2 separate regions of the Homo sapiens genome follow, and region 2 is linked to region 1. The links come from fine-mapping of genetic effects on plasma protein levels. Region 1 holds a variant in brackets. A gene starts in the other region. All regions are shown on their reverse strands. Region 1 overlaps CAPN2 (calpain 2). Region 2 holds the start of DTX3 (deltex E3 ubiquitin ligase 3).

What was found. PIP is the chance, under the fine-mapping model, that this variant and not a neighbour inherited with it causes the effect. The UK Biobank Pharma Proteomics Project read protein levels with antibody pairs (Olink). The fine-mapping took linkage between variants from a reference panel, not from the people measured, so its PIPs are less certain.
Region 2: DTX3 starts here. The variant in region 1 is fine-mapped to the plasma level of the DTX3 protein (UK Biobank, PIP above 0.99).

The regions. Positions count from the first base shown.
Region 1 is chr1:223,750,502-223,759,131 of GRCh38, reverse strand. It overlaps CAPN2 (calpain 2), which reads right to left. Exons shown (of 21, transcript NM_001748.5): 7 at 8,157-8,242; 8 at 7,061-7,135; 9 at 6,176-6,336; 10 at 3,483-3,652; 11 at 1,752-1,763. Among named protein-coding and RNA genes, the nearest start is that of CAPN2, 42 kb to the right of the region's middle. RefSeq lists an enhancer at 5,688-6,887 and a silencer at 7,591-7,885. The variant G/A (reference allele first, on the strand shown) is at 6,199.
Region 2 is chr12:57,604,502-57,609,499 of GRCh38, reverse strand. It overlaps DTX3 (deltex E3 ubiquitin ligase 3), which reads right to left and starts at 4,676. Exons shown (of 7, transcript NM_178502.4): 1 at 4,642-4,676; 2 at 3,769-3,929; 3 at 3,248-3,310; 4 at 2,982-3,057; 5 at 1,887-2,635; 6 at 763-980; 7 at 1-423. The coding sequence starts at 2,982. The coding sequence ends at 348. RefSeq lists enhancers at 4,282-4,794, 4,795-4,998.

The DNA.
Region 1 (8,630 bases):
AGGCGTCAGAAACCAGCCTGGGCAACACAGGAAGCCCTCATCTATATAACGACGACAACAACAACAAAACAACAAAATTTTTTTAAAAAAATAGCAGTACAGTGACAATGCCTGGGTCATTTTAGATAAAAAGCAAACTTTTGTTAGGTGTGGTGGCTCACGCCTGTAATACCAGCACTTTGGGAGGCTGTGAGAGGATTGCTCGAGGCCAGGAGTTTGAGACCAGCCTGGGCAATGTAGTGAGACCCCTGTCTCTGCAAAAAATAAAAATATTAGCCAGGGGTGGCGGCAAGCGCCTGTAGTCTCAGCTACTCAGGAGGCTGAGGTAGGAGGCTCACGTGAGTCTGAGAGTTCAAGGACGGCAGTGAGCTATGATCACACCACTGTACTCTAGCCTGGGTGACAGAATGAGACCTTGTCTTAAAAAAAAAAAAAACAAAAAGCAAACTTTCTACCAAAAAACACAAATGCCTGCTGAGGAACTCGGAAGCACATGCCCACAGGGGTTTCACATCCATTCAGCTCCGCCTGCAGAGATGCCCAGTCTTTCCACAGTGTTCCCAGCCTTCCTCTAAGAGACTCTCAGGCAGGAACAGCGTCCACATGGCAGGAACCTGGCTCGGTTCTACGTGGTGTATGATGCACTATAAAAGCAAAGACAGGACTGGGGGCAGGAGAAAGACAACCCAGCTTCTAAACCAAGCATGATCCACCGGACCAAGGCTGGAGCAGCATCTAAAAGAGCCCGATGTGCTACCGGTTGCACTGCCTTGCTGTGAAAGAAATGTACTACAGGTGGGTCAAAGTGCCCCGTGTGTCTACTTTAATAATCGTGACCTTGGACCAGGCATCCCATCTGCTTCAGCAAGCGGTGACTGTGGGCCCAAATGCTCTCGCAAAATTTAAGTCATTCCACGGTAGTGCAGTGAGGTGGATGGTTGACCAGTTTTACTGAAAAATAAACTGAAATGCAGCCAGGCACGGTGGCTACACCTGTAATCCTAGCACTTTGGGAGGCTGAAGGGGGTGGATCACCTGAGGTCAGGAGTTCAAGACCAGCCTGGCCACCATGGTGAAACCCCGTCTCTACTAAAAATACAAAAATTGGCCTGGCATCCTGGTGCGTGCCTGTAGTCCCAGCTACTGGGGAGGCTGAAGCAGGAGAATCACTTGAACCCAGGAGGTAGAGGTTGCAGTGAGTCGAGATCATGCCACTGCACTTCATCCTGGGTGAAAGAGCGAGACAAAAAACAAACAAACAAACCAAAAATCAAAAAAAAAAAAAACAAAACCCTGAAATGCAGAGAGGAGCTGTAACGTGTCCAAGGTCACACAGCCTGGGAATTGGGTCCTGGTCTCCTCTGTGCTCCCGCGTTGTCTTCTAGTACAGTCTGCAGGGTTCACCTTTTCCCTGACTCAGTCTTCTCCTAAGAGTGACAAAGAACTTTGTGAAAAGCCTCCTGCAGTCTCAGGATCATGGATTTTCTGCCCAGAACCAAACCCTGTATGGGCTCTGCCAGGTCACAGGGAGGCAGCGGGTCCCACAAGGACTTTCCAGAAACCTTGCCCAGAGCTTAGACCAGTGGGATCTAGAGCCTGGGCAACTTCAGCAGGGCCCCAGGGGTGGCCAGGACTCATCCTTCATGACCACCAGCCCCTGCCCGGGCTTCACGACGCTCCCTGAGCTCCAGCAGTCTAAGCCTCTCGCTTTTTTGGTGACCTGAGCACCCCGGGACATGGGCCAGACGTACCTCCTCTGGAACCTGCAAAATAAAGGAGATGCAATTCAGATGCCGGAAAAGCAGTGTAAGAAAATGCATCACTGTGCTCTTCTCTTCCGCTGCCCCCGTTTTCTCTGTAGCATTAGCAATATCAACTAATTCAACCGAGTAACTGTTTTCCAAGGAACTCAAAGCCTCTCCAACACTGAAGAAAATCCTCTTATGTTGATAAGCCCTCACCTCCCTTCCTAACTTAGAGTATAAATCTCAGGCATGGAGATGTGAAGAGACTTGTCTAAGGTGGCAAAGCCCATATCGGCCTCCCACGCAGGGAAAGAGGGCCAGGCGGGCCCTGTTGGAGGAGGCAGCAGGCGAGGTGAAATACACCTGGGGCTAGGAGCCAGCAGTGCCGGCCTCTGTCAGCCAGGTCCAGTGGTCCGGTCTGCATTTCCTTGAGCAAGTCCCCTCTCCTCTCTGGCCTCAGTTTTCTTGTCTCAAAAATAGGACCCAGTGATCCCCAAGGTCCGTCCCAACTCTGAAAGCCCGTGGCTGCATTTCCAAGCCCATAAGCCGGTGGGAGGGAAGCTGTGTATCACAATTCCATTTGCATTGTCCTTGGATCGATTCTGTCCCAGATCCGAAGTCCTCAGCTCCTGTTTCAGAGACGGAGGGGTTTAGGCCTATGTGCATTTTTACAACTGATGGTATTTGCCCAGCTGCCTTTCTCAGGTGGGTGAGCAGGTAGAAGTCAGTGTTCCATGGGTGGCAACGTTGCCAGTGGTGAGCACAGAGCCTCCTCTCCTGACACCTCGTCTGGATTCTCCCAGGGGTGTGCTGGGAAACTGGCTCTTGGGAGAGGGTGGAAGCTCTGATTTGTACTATTTGCCACTTTCCATGGTGTAAACAGGTCCCTGCCAGGGCCATTTTTCAGGCTGCTGAAGGACCTCAGCAGACATGGGTCAGAGAAAAGAGATGGGCTTTGGGAGCCGGGAGGAGCCAGCTCCAGCCCATCAAACCGAAATGCATCCCCAGTCAGTGCCCTAAAGCCTTCCTTTCATCCCTCTCCTCGCATGGCTACCTGCAGCCCACGAAAGCTCTTTCTTGTTTTGCAGAAGGGAGTGGGGAGAGCCCAGGGGCCCAGCGTGTTGGGTGAGTTCTCAGTGCCCCAGCCCCAGCCTGAGGGCGGAGAGGAGACTGCAATGCGGCTGCCCTCTGGCTGTGGCTCAGAGTGAAAGGAAAACACGCATACAGCAGGAGTCTGTGTAGGGATCTGGGCTCCAGCCATCAGAGCCCTGGGGGGAGCATCATGACCAATGTTCCCCTGTCCCCAAGCTCTCCACCATCCAGGCCAATGACTTTGCCGAGCTCTGAGCAGCTGCACCCATGGACTCAGTCCTGCCCTCACAGTATTGCCTGATGTGGCCCAGTATATTCTGTTCTTTGAAGATGGGTAGGCTGACCAGAATGCCAGGCCTGGAGGATGTGAGAAGGGATGTGGAGGCCATTTGAGAGTGGAACTCCCTGCAGGCTGGCTGTGGGGGGCCCGTGAAGGGCTTAGAAGGCCCCACAACCCAGAGCCACTGCAGGGGCCTCCCTACGGGGGCTACTCCTGAGCCTGGCCAGGCTGGTAGTTTTGTTTTTCCTTGGCCAAGCTCCCGGTCTGGGATCCCATCCCCAGTTCTGCCTCTGGGGTCAGCTTTCCATGCAGGGGCTGAGATGAACACATGGGGAAGGGAGGGCAGGAGCCCCTGCGCTCTGCACCTCATAGATGCCAAAGCCGATGGTGTGCATGTCCTCGCCCATCTTCCTCTGCCGCCGTCGGTGCTTCTGAATGAGCCCCACCAGGAAGGTGCAGCCGCTCTCCCCATCCTCCTCGTCCTCATCCTCCTCCTCCAGCTTGATCAGGTACTGAGGGTTCATCCAGAATGTGTCTGCAGCCAGAAAGGGGCAGAGGAGCCCAGCCCTGAGCAGGAATGCATGGGGGTGGGGGGTGGCCCTGGTCTCAGGCTTGGAGGCTTCTGAGAGGGATGGAGATAAAGGGAGATGGTGGGAGGTGGTGGGAGATGGTAAGAGGTGGTGGGGGATGGTGGGAGATGGCAGAGTATGGCAGAAGATGGTGGGAGACAGCGGGAGATGTCAGAAAATGGCGGGAGATGGTGGGAGTTGGCAAGAGGCGGTGGGAGGCTGTGGGAGACAGTGGGAGATGGTGGGAGATGGCAGAGGATGGCAGAAGATGGTCAGAGACGGCAGGCGATGTTGGGAGAGGCTAGGAGGTGGGAGACACCAGGGTTGGAGTGTGGACTGCAGGCTTTGTTAGGCTGGAGACGGGTGACGGTAGCTGTGGAGAGAGGATGACCTGCACTTGTCTGAATCTAACAGGAACCTAAATTAGAAACTTTCTCTTGCAGTTCTCTCTCTGGCTCCAGGCTGGCTTGTCTTGGGGACTGGTCTGTCACTCTGGAACGCAGGGTGGTTAGAGCTGTGGCTTCCCCTCATGGTACCTTCTCTTCACTGGGCTCTGATGGGGAGCCTGGGGCGGGGCTCGGCTGGCCTGGGGGACTCCGGGATCTGCTCCCTGCACTTGCCGGTCGCCGCCCCCTCGGTGAGCCCGGAGGCCAAGAACATCCTGTGTATAATTCCAGACTCTTTCTTGTTCTGCGTCCCTTGTCCTCTCAGGCCTATTCCCTTGCCCTGCTCCTGATGTCTCTGCCCTCTTTACTTCCAAAACCTATTTATTTAAAAAATCTAAGATTCATTCATGTTTAAGGGGAATTATGCTAATTGCCTTTCCATACCTAATGGGATAAAACCCTAACTGTGAAATTACAGGCACCATCTTGTGTAGGGGTTGGCAGCTATGGCTCCGAAGGCCGCTGCCTGTTTTTGTAAATAACGTTTTATTGGAACGTAGCCACGGCCATTCGCTTAAGTATGGCTGCCTTTGGGTTATAGCAATAGAGTTGTTGTTATAGAGACTGAGTGGCCCACAAAGCCAAAATTATTTACTATCTGACCCTTTAGAGGGAGTTTTCCGACTCCTGATCTAGTGGGTAGGAGGGGTCCCTTGTGGGGGGCAGAGGGCCTTCCCAGCGCCTCTGGGACTGCCACTTGGTGGCTGCATACTTGAGGTGAAGGAGTCCGAGCCCCAGAACTGTAGGCCAGCTAGCCGCAGTCTGACTACTTGCTCTGTGGCCCTGGTATGCGACTTAGAGGCTCAGCTTCCTCATCTGTCACAGAGAATCACTATGTGACCATGATCTGCTGCCACTGTACTTACACAGTGACTCCTCAGTCAGGGGGCCTGGGTTCAAATCCCAGCACGCTCTGTGGCCTTCAGCAAGTCACTAGCCTCTCCAAGCCTCAGTTTCCTCATCTTAGAGATGGAGGTGATAAGAAAGTGCCTGCCTCAGAAGTTTGTTGGGAAGGTTAGATAGAATGTTATGCAGGCTGAATATCCCTTATCTGAAATTCCTGGGGCCAGAAGTGTTTCCTATTTTGGATTTTTTTGGATTTTGGAATATTTGTATATACATAACATATCTTAGGGATGGAACTCAAGTCTAATGACAAAACTCATTTCTGTTTCATATATAATTTATACACATAGGCTGAAGGTAATTCTATAGCATATTTAAAATAATTTTGTGCATGAAACAAAGTTTTGACTGTGTTTTGACTGCGACCTGTCACCTGAGGTCAAGTGTCGAATTTTCCACCTGTGGTATCATGTTGGGGCTGAAAAAGTTTTGGATTTTGGAGCATTTCAGATTTCACATTTTCAGATTATGGATCCTCACCCTGTGTACAAAACACTTAGGATAGTTCCAAGCACTGAAGGTGTGCCCCATAATTGGCAGATGTCATCATGTTCAGACAACTGCTGACGGACTAAGCCATGAAGGCAGAAGAATCAAGGGGCTCAACAAAGGCTGGACCAGAGGAGAAATCTTCACCCCATCTGGGCAGCGCCCAGTCAACATTTGCTGATTGAAGTGAGTATGGGGCAACAAACAGGGCCTGATATGTGGAGGGCTCCCTGGGTGCCGGGACAAGGTTCCCTTGTAGGCTCGGCTGCCTGGGTGTGGGGTGCATAGAGCAGCTCATGGCCGTGAAGTGGGATTGAGCACTGCTTCCGTGAGCATGGCGGAAGGTCAGGCTGAAGGTCATGATGGGCGCTGGGGAATCTAGGGCCTGGAGAGGACATCACAGAAACAGTGGCTCTTGGGTTTGTCCTGGGTAGGGCAGGAGGTAAGGGATTGAGAAAGAGAGCTCGGGGAGAAAAGGCTCAGGGAAAAGAAAAGGCTCAGGGAGAAAGAAGACAGAGAGGGTTCCAGTGAGCAGGAGCTGCCTCCTGGGGCTGCTAGGCTGGGGTGTGGTACACAGGGTGGGGTAAGGGGAGCTTTGGCCTTTGGTGGCCCCGCATTGCAACAGCCCTTATATGCAACAGCCCTTACTCGGGTAGTTCCTGCAACCTCCC[G/A]CGGTGGAGCCCCGCCTCCAGTTCCCATCCATTTTGGTGAGTTTCCACTTCTTGTAGGTATCGCTGGTGAGAGTGTCTGGGGTCAGGTTACAGATCTCCAGGCGGGAATAGTGCCTCAGGAAGTCACTGAAAGACATCCTGGCAAAAGCAGAGACAATCATCACAGGTGATAAGAAGACACACTGGTAAGCCTTGACTTTCCACCAACACCAGACCAGGAGCCACCCAAAGCCAGGCAGAGCAGCTCATTAGAACTGAGTGGATGGGCACCAGGTTCAGAATCAGAAGGCCCAGATTCCAGTCCTGGCGCTGCAACTTTCTAGCTGGGTGACTTTGAGCAGGTTACTTAAACTTCTCTGAAGCTCAGAACTCTCACCTGCAAAAATGGGAGCCGTGCCCATCAAATGTGACAATATATGGGCCCCATTTGATAAAGAGCATGTTGTGTCCAGGTGCAGGTGGTTATAGAGTGGCGCAGACACACAGACATGTGGGTCCATTGCTGCTCACTAAGGGACCAGTTTCTTAAGGGGCTGGGATGAGTCTCCGGAACCTGGGGGAGAAAGGCCCCATCTTTCCCTTGTTTCCTGGGATCTGAACATTACCAAAGGAATTCCTCTTAGCCTTTTTCTGAAGCTGCTCAGCTTATAAACCCCATTGTCAAGATGGACCGTTGAAGGGGCTTAAGAATTTCTTTATTCAGGCTCTTATAGTGAACTTAAAATAACAAAACCAGGATCCCACACGCTTGTGTCCTCGACATGGTAAACTCACTTTGGCCGACACTCTTTCTAATTAGCAGTTTTCTAGTAAAGAACATTGGGGCAGACAGAGCTTTCCCTGAAGCCTCCACTAATCTTACCAGAATTCTCCATCTTCATGCCGTCTGGTCAGCCTTTCCCTCTCCTCTGGGTCTATAGTGTTCCAGCTTGGGCAGCTGGAAAACAAAGTAAAGAGAGAGGCGTTAGTGTACGATGATTTCTCCCCAAAGGCCCCAGAGTTGAGGAAGAGGGACATCTGCTCTCACCTCTGAGGGCTCAGGCTCCAGAAAGGGGGAAAGTAGCCCACATCTGGCTAACAGCTGCATTTTAATACTCTTACAGCACTTTAAAGAGTATAGAACACTATACAGATGCAAACCAGGGAGCAAAGTGAGCGGGTGAGTTGTGCTGGAAGACAGTGGCAAGGAAGAGTCCAGAAAATGAACATAGTTCATTAGAGGGAGATGGAGTAGCTCAGAGCAGTTGCCCAATTGAGATGGGCCTGGCAGCTCTTTTAGAGACAACTGAAGATCTGATGAGGAGCCTCCGGCTGAGGCCTGGGAAGCCTCAGCAGGTGTCTCTCTGTCCACGGAGCAGAAGGACCTGGCCCTGTACACAGGGGCAGTGCACAGGGTAAACTAACCACTGCCTGAGCTTTGGCTGGAATTACACACAGGCCTCTGTACTGCCCACCTCTCCAACCTGAGGCAGAGCAAGTAGGCTGAGGTTGCCACAGCAGATGTACAAACAAGTGTTTACCCCAAATAGTTGAGGGTTCAACATGCCTACCAGTAAGCCCTGGAAATCAACAGAGGGATGTTTCTCTGGCCTTTGGTACAAAGTTCACATCCCTGTAATAGAAGTGCCTGGGGGAAGGTGGGGTGTATTTTTTTCCCTGAAAGCCCCATAGAAGGGTGGATTTGAGCTAGGGAAGGGGTGAACCTGGAGGCAGTGGCAGGAATGAACTTCACACGAGCAGCTTGGGGCCTGGAAGAAGGCACTCAGGCTGCTGGAGGAGTGTCCTGGTTAAAAGACCCTTTGAGGGGCCCCTGTCCACGGGTCCCTGTCCACGTGGCCTGGGCTCTCCTGGCTATATTTCTCAGAATAATGCACATGTCTTCTTCTCTCGCCCTCTTCCCAGAGCCTCCCAGCACAATGCACCCCCGCCTGGGGCCCCGAGGCCTGCGCCCTCCTCACTTGTCATTCCACCGCCCTGTCCACTCCACTTCTCCCCAGGGATTTCGGATGCGGATCAGTTTCTGTAGGCTTCCGTTACTTTCAACCTGCAGGATTAGATAAAAGGGAGGAGTAAGAGGTTGAGTTCAAGTCAGGGCTATGAAGGCTTGGGCCTCCAACCCCCTTCCGCATGAGCCAGGAGGTATGGGGCTGAGGACGGTGGGGAGGATTTGGGGGTTGAGTCCATGTATGAGGGAGGATCACAAGAGCTAGAGGGGGCTTGGCACCCAGACCTCTCACTGCTGCCTAGCTTTGGAAAATGAGATTTAAAGCTCCCAGGATCCGGCTCTCGAGGATGGGGCTGTTGGTGCTTCATCTCTGAACTTCAGCTTAACTGACAGGATGCGCTTTTGGTAAAGGAGCTCAGAGAAGCTTTACCATTTGTTGAAAGATCACTGGTGATAACAGGCACATGCAGTGAGTGAATCTGGATTG
Region 2 (4,998 bases), not on the chromosome of region 1:
TCCCCACCCTAGGTCCTTTCTCGGCTTGGTCGTGGAGCACAGCACATACCAGAAAAAGCCAAGGGCAATGGAGGGGCAGGGAAACCGGGAGTATATGTACACGGGGAGGGGAGAACAGAGCCTTGGAGGTCGGCCTCTGCCAGAAGGGAGTGGCTCACACTGCATTGAAACACTTGGCCAGTGGGGGATGGGGGAAGGGATTGCCCCCTCCCTCTCGGAACTCCCTTCCCAGTCAGACAGGTCCCCTACAGGTGTGGTGTGGGGGGCAGGGGGCAGAGAGGAGAAAGAGGCTTCTGCTGGGTCCTAGTAGAGGCAGACAGCAGGGGCCTTGGCAAAGGCGATGTCCTTCAGTCATCTGTGATACCCTTCGCTCTCAGCTCCTCTTGCACCCGGGTCAGGTAGGTGGGGTCTGGGTACCCAAACCTGGGAGCAAAGAGAAATGAGGGTGAGGGTTGTTAGCTGTTTGAACTTGCTATTATCCCCATGCTCACCCTCATTCTAGGTGGCTCAGACACCTCCCCACCTCCCCTAAGGGAGGACACCTCCAAATCCAAGATAATTTAGCCCAGTTCTGCTTATTTTTGTAGGCTAAGCTGGGCACACCAGGACCAGGTTGAATGTAGGAGAAACTGAGATGGCTGAACAGTTTGGAAGTGGTTCTCTCCAGTTAGGAGGCTCCGTGAGCGAGGGGTTGGTGGGTCCCTCAGTGGAAATGGAACAAAGGGGAGGAGCCAAGGGAAAGGAAATGAAGAGGGGTCGCACAGCTGGGGTCCCCCTGTGCAGCTGGTCTTGTGGTGGATGTCGTTCCAGGTGATGACATTCGGTCTCCCTGTGGTCATGGACGTGCCGATAGTGAAGGTGAGACGCTGGTCAAACGCCTTGCGGAACAGGGTCAGCACCTTGTTGCCCTCAGGGCAGTCCGGGAGGTAGGCCACCCGTGTGGTGCCAGGATACCGAACTCCTGGGTTTGGGTGTTCAGCCTGGGAGGAAGGTGAAGCAGAGTGGGCAGTGAGCAGCCAGGCATCCTAAGGCCCAGATGCCAGAGGAGGGTCATCCAGGCTAGTCTCTGTCTGAGCACCCCCAGCTAATGCGAACGGGGCAGCAACAGGCTGACAGCTTTCCACAGAAGGAGAGATTATACGGCCTCGGCAGCAAGAGCCTGTTTCAGAGCATAATCCTTATGTGTTAAGAGATTTTTTCTGCTGTCTCAATCCCTCAAGTCTCCATTCAGCAACAAATGGATTCTCAGAAGTGATGGAAGTTAGCTGGTCCCTACACTCCAGACAACTCAGCAAAAATGTGAAGACAGAATAATCTATCTTTCAGCCTTCCCTTCACCTGAAAATACTCCTAATGTTTCTGCCACTGTCTAACTTGTTCCATTTTCCATCACTCTTCTGTGCAGCTTCTTCACCCCTCTGCAGCCAGAATTGCACATTACTCTTTGTCCAGCAGGAAGACACCTATAGGCCTTGACTACTCCTGTTTTTACAGAGTGATGCTCCTGGCTCTGTTGGGTTGGTCAGATCCCTTCCTATTGTGCCTCCCTTCCCCTAAGCCACCACCTCCACAGAATTTACCTCTGCCAAGATGTCAGCACAGTATTTGTGTTCATCAAGGAAATAATATGCAATTCCTTCCTCTCATATCTGATTTGCTTTTTTTTTTCCTAGCTCATATCTGATTTTCACGTGTGCCTTGGGATCACAGGGATGGAAAGGCTGGGCCTCACGGGGACCTCCTAGGTCCAGGGCACTGAGTAGGAGGGCACAGTGGAAGACAGCAAGACTGTCTCACATCTAACAAGCACACTCACCCTCACCCGGTTTTCCTAGGTCAGAGCTTGGGGAAAGCCAAAGGGTAAGGGCAGGCCATGGTCTTCTTACCCCCTGGACACCGGGCGGGAAGACGTACTGGATGACAATGGTGCCGTACTTCTCATAGCTGGGCAGTAGGAGGGTGGCGTCCTTAGAGACCAGCATCCGCCCATTCTGGGGCTGGTTGCCCACCAGCTGCCCATAGAAGCGGCCGCACATGGGGCAGGCCTTTTTCACCTGCAGAGCCCGGGTGATGCAGCCCTCGCAGAATGAATGCCGGCACTTCTCCAATGTCTTGGCATTCTGGATCTCCCCCAGACAGATGGGGCAGGTGCTCTCCTGCTCTTCTGCCTCCTCCCGAAGGCGAGGAGGAAGAGGTGGGGGCAGGGGGGGAGGAGGAGGGGGGAGCCCCCGAGCTCCTGGGGGCAGAAGTGGGGCTGCTCGGAGAGGGGGTGGGCCTGCGCGGTGCATCTCAGGGTGCTCCCCTCCACCCCCCAGAGCCAGGCAGCCCATCAGCTCCCCCTGCCTCTGAGCTTTCTTCAGCTCTTTCTCTGCCTCTTTTAGCAGCCCCTTGAGAGCCTTCCGGGCTAGGTAGAGCCCATTTGGAGGGGCCGGGGGAGGACCCTGTGGGGAAAGCTGGAGAACATAGATGTCAGAAGTCTCGCCATCTATGAGGATGGACACACGGTGCTCCTCCCGAAGCCGGGCCAGCCGGGCTGGGGTCTCTTTGCTCAGGAAGTCCCACACGGGCTTGGACACAGTCACTTTGTTCTTGCAGGTGCCTCCACAGGCTGCCATTCTGGACAGGACGAACGACACTGCCCCCAGGGTGAAAGGGACTCAGGGTGGGGGGTCCCCATTTGACAAGTATCAGTGCCTCCTACTTCAGGTTCCTTCCAAACCCTCTATTACCTCTGTTTTCTCAAAGCCTAATCCCCAACCCTTCACCCAAATTCATATTCTGTCTCCCCTTATCTTCCAAACCCAAAACCCACTGAAGAGCAAAAAAGTTTCCAGAGCTATATTATCATCTAAGCCAAGTATCAGTCTTGTTTCTCCTGTCATTTCTCCCAGATCATAGAAACAACTTGCCCCTCCCACCTCTTGGGGAAAAATGGGCTGTTTAAAGGGGAGGGAGACTCTTTGCCCCTCCTTTTTGCTTACTTTGATCCTGAAGAGCTTAGAATTGGCATGCAGGCTCACTCTTCTTTCCCTGCTCCCTACTTGTAGGTCGTGTGACCTGGTAGGGCGGAAAAATGGAAGGAAAGTGAGAAACCCCTTCTCCCAATTCCCATGGCCCCCAACCCAGCAGCCCATGGAACAGAGACAGAAACCTGGGTATAGGTTACTAAGAATGGCATTACTTGGAACATGGAATGAAGGAAACCAGTTTAAGGGTGAAAATTGAGGATCCCTTGCGGGGGAGATACCTGGAAAGCCCATGGAAGATGATGGCAGCAGAAATCCTTCTATTTCCACTCAGCTGACCAGGACTGGGAGTGGGGGAAGGGTAAAAAGTTATGATGGCAAATGTTACCATTCCCCTCAGCCAACCCAGAAATAAAAACTCCCCTTCCATCTCCTCTCTTCTCTGCAGAATTCCATTATCAGCTTCTCCCCAAGTTGCTCAAGAAGGAACTTCAACATGCTAACCTTCCTCCTTTCTTCCCCAGCTCTGAGGCCCCCAAGAAAGCCTAGGGCACACATAAGAGAAGTCAGGAAAGAAAACGCCCACACAGGTGGAGGTCTTCTTGCCACCTCCCTCAGATCACATGGACCGGAATATTTCCTATGCTCCCCAACTCCTCGCCTGCTCCACATTGCCAAATAATTCAGCCCCTATTGCCAGGGAGCCTTCCTTGAGAGCTAACTCAGTCCCTTCTGCTGAAGTCTGTTAAGGATGTGAACAAAGTGGCAGCAGCCCCTGCAATAACAAAGTTCTCATTGTCACCTTTTAAACCCAGCACAGGCAGTGCTGTCTGTCAGCTCCCAAGTCTGGCATTTAGGGAGGGGCGGGGCTCACACAAGGGCTCAGCTGGAGGGGCCTGATGTTTTCCCTGAGTCTGGTCGCATTGGGCTACGGGGCTGTCTCCACAACACTTCCAAATGCAGCTCAAACAGAAAGAAGGGCCATTAGTGTGACCTCCATTTATTGACTGATCCAAGAAGGAGCAGCTGTCCCTTCATGCCTCCATCATCGTCCCCCAAGGCCAGATGCACCTCGAGATTCATAAGTGAAAATGGAACCCTAGAGTCTCAGCCCATACAGTCTATCCGCGATGCAACACTTCTCTCCCCATCACGGGGGACCCAGGACCTAGGTGTCCTAGGTCCAAGTCCTGCTGGCACAGAAAAGGGAGGCGGGGCCCCAGTTTAGGGTGGGTCTGTGATTCCTCTGTGGCAACCCAGGCCGGACAAGGAACCAGTCTCTCCCTCCAGACAGAGGCCAGAGGGAGGCACAGCCCGGATGGGCAAGGGTCCCTGGGGGCATCCACTGAAGCAGCTCCCGCCCTCCCCCCACGGCCTCCTCCAAGACCCGACCCGGAACCAACTCCCCACATCCCTCAGTAGCCAAAGCCCCCGGATCCCCACCGCCGGGTGGGGGTGCATGTCGGCCCGATCGCAGCCCTCAGAACCCCCGAATGGAGGCCAAGGCTGGAGGGTGCTAGAAAGATGATCGGCCGGGCACGGAGCGGGGAGCCCGGAGCCGCGCGCGGGGAGGGGAGGTGGAGGAGGGGGCGCCGGGGGAGCGGGGGGCGCGTGAGGGGTGCGAGCGGGGCCCGGGGGGCGCGCGGTGGGTGTGGGGGGCGCCGGGCTCACCTACCTCTCGTCAGCGCCGCCATTGCCGGTCACATGACTGAGGCTGTTGCTGGGATGACGGTCCGGGCCTTAGCAACAAGGAGGGGGAGACCCCGAAAGGTGGGGGATTGCAGGGGGTGCAGGCTGAGGAAAAGGGAAGGAGGGAGGACAGCACCCCCTTTCCCCTCACAGGTGATAATCACCGTTCCTTTGACCCCCTTCTATCCGCAAGCCCCTGCCCTTCCTCCCCAAAACAAAAATGGAGGCGCTGTCCCAGTCTTTGGAGGGAGGGGGTGGCGTCATGGAACTGAGGGTAGGAGGTTAAATCCCTGGAGACGCCACCCTACTCGCTCCCCGCTCCCGGCGGAGCACTCTCCCTTTT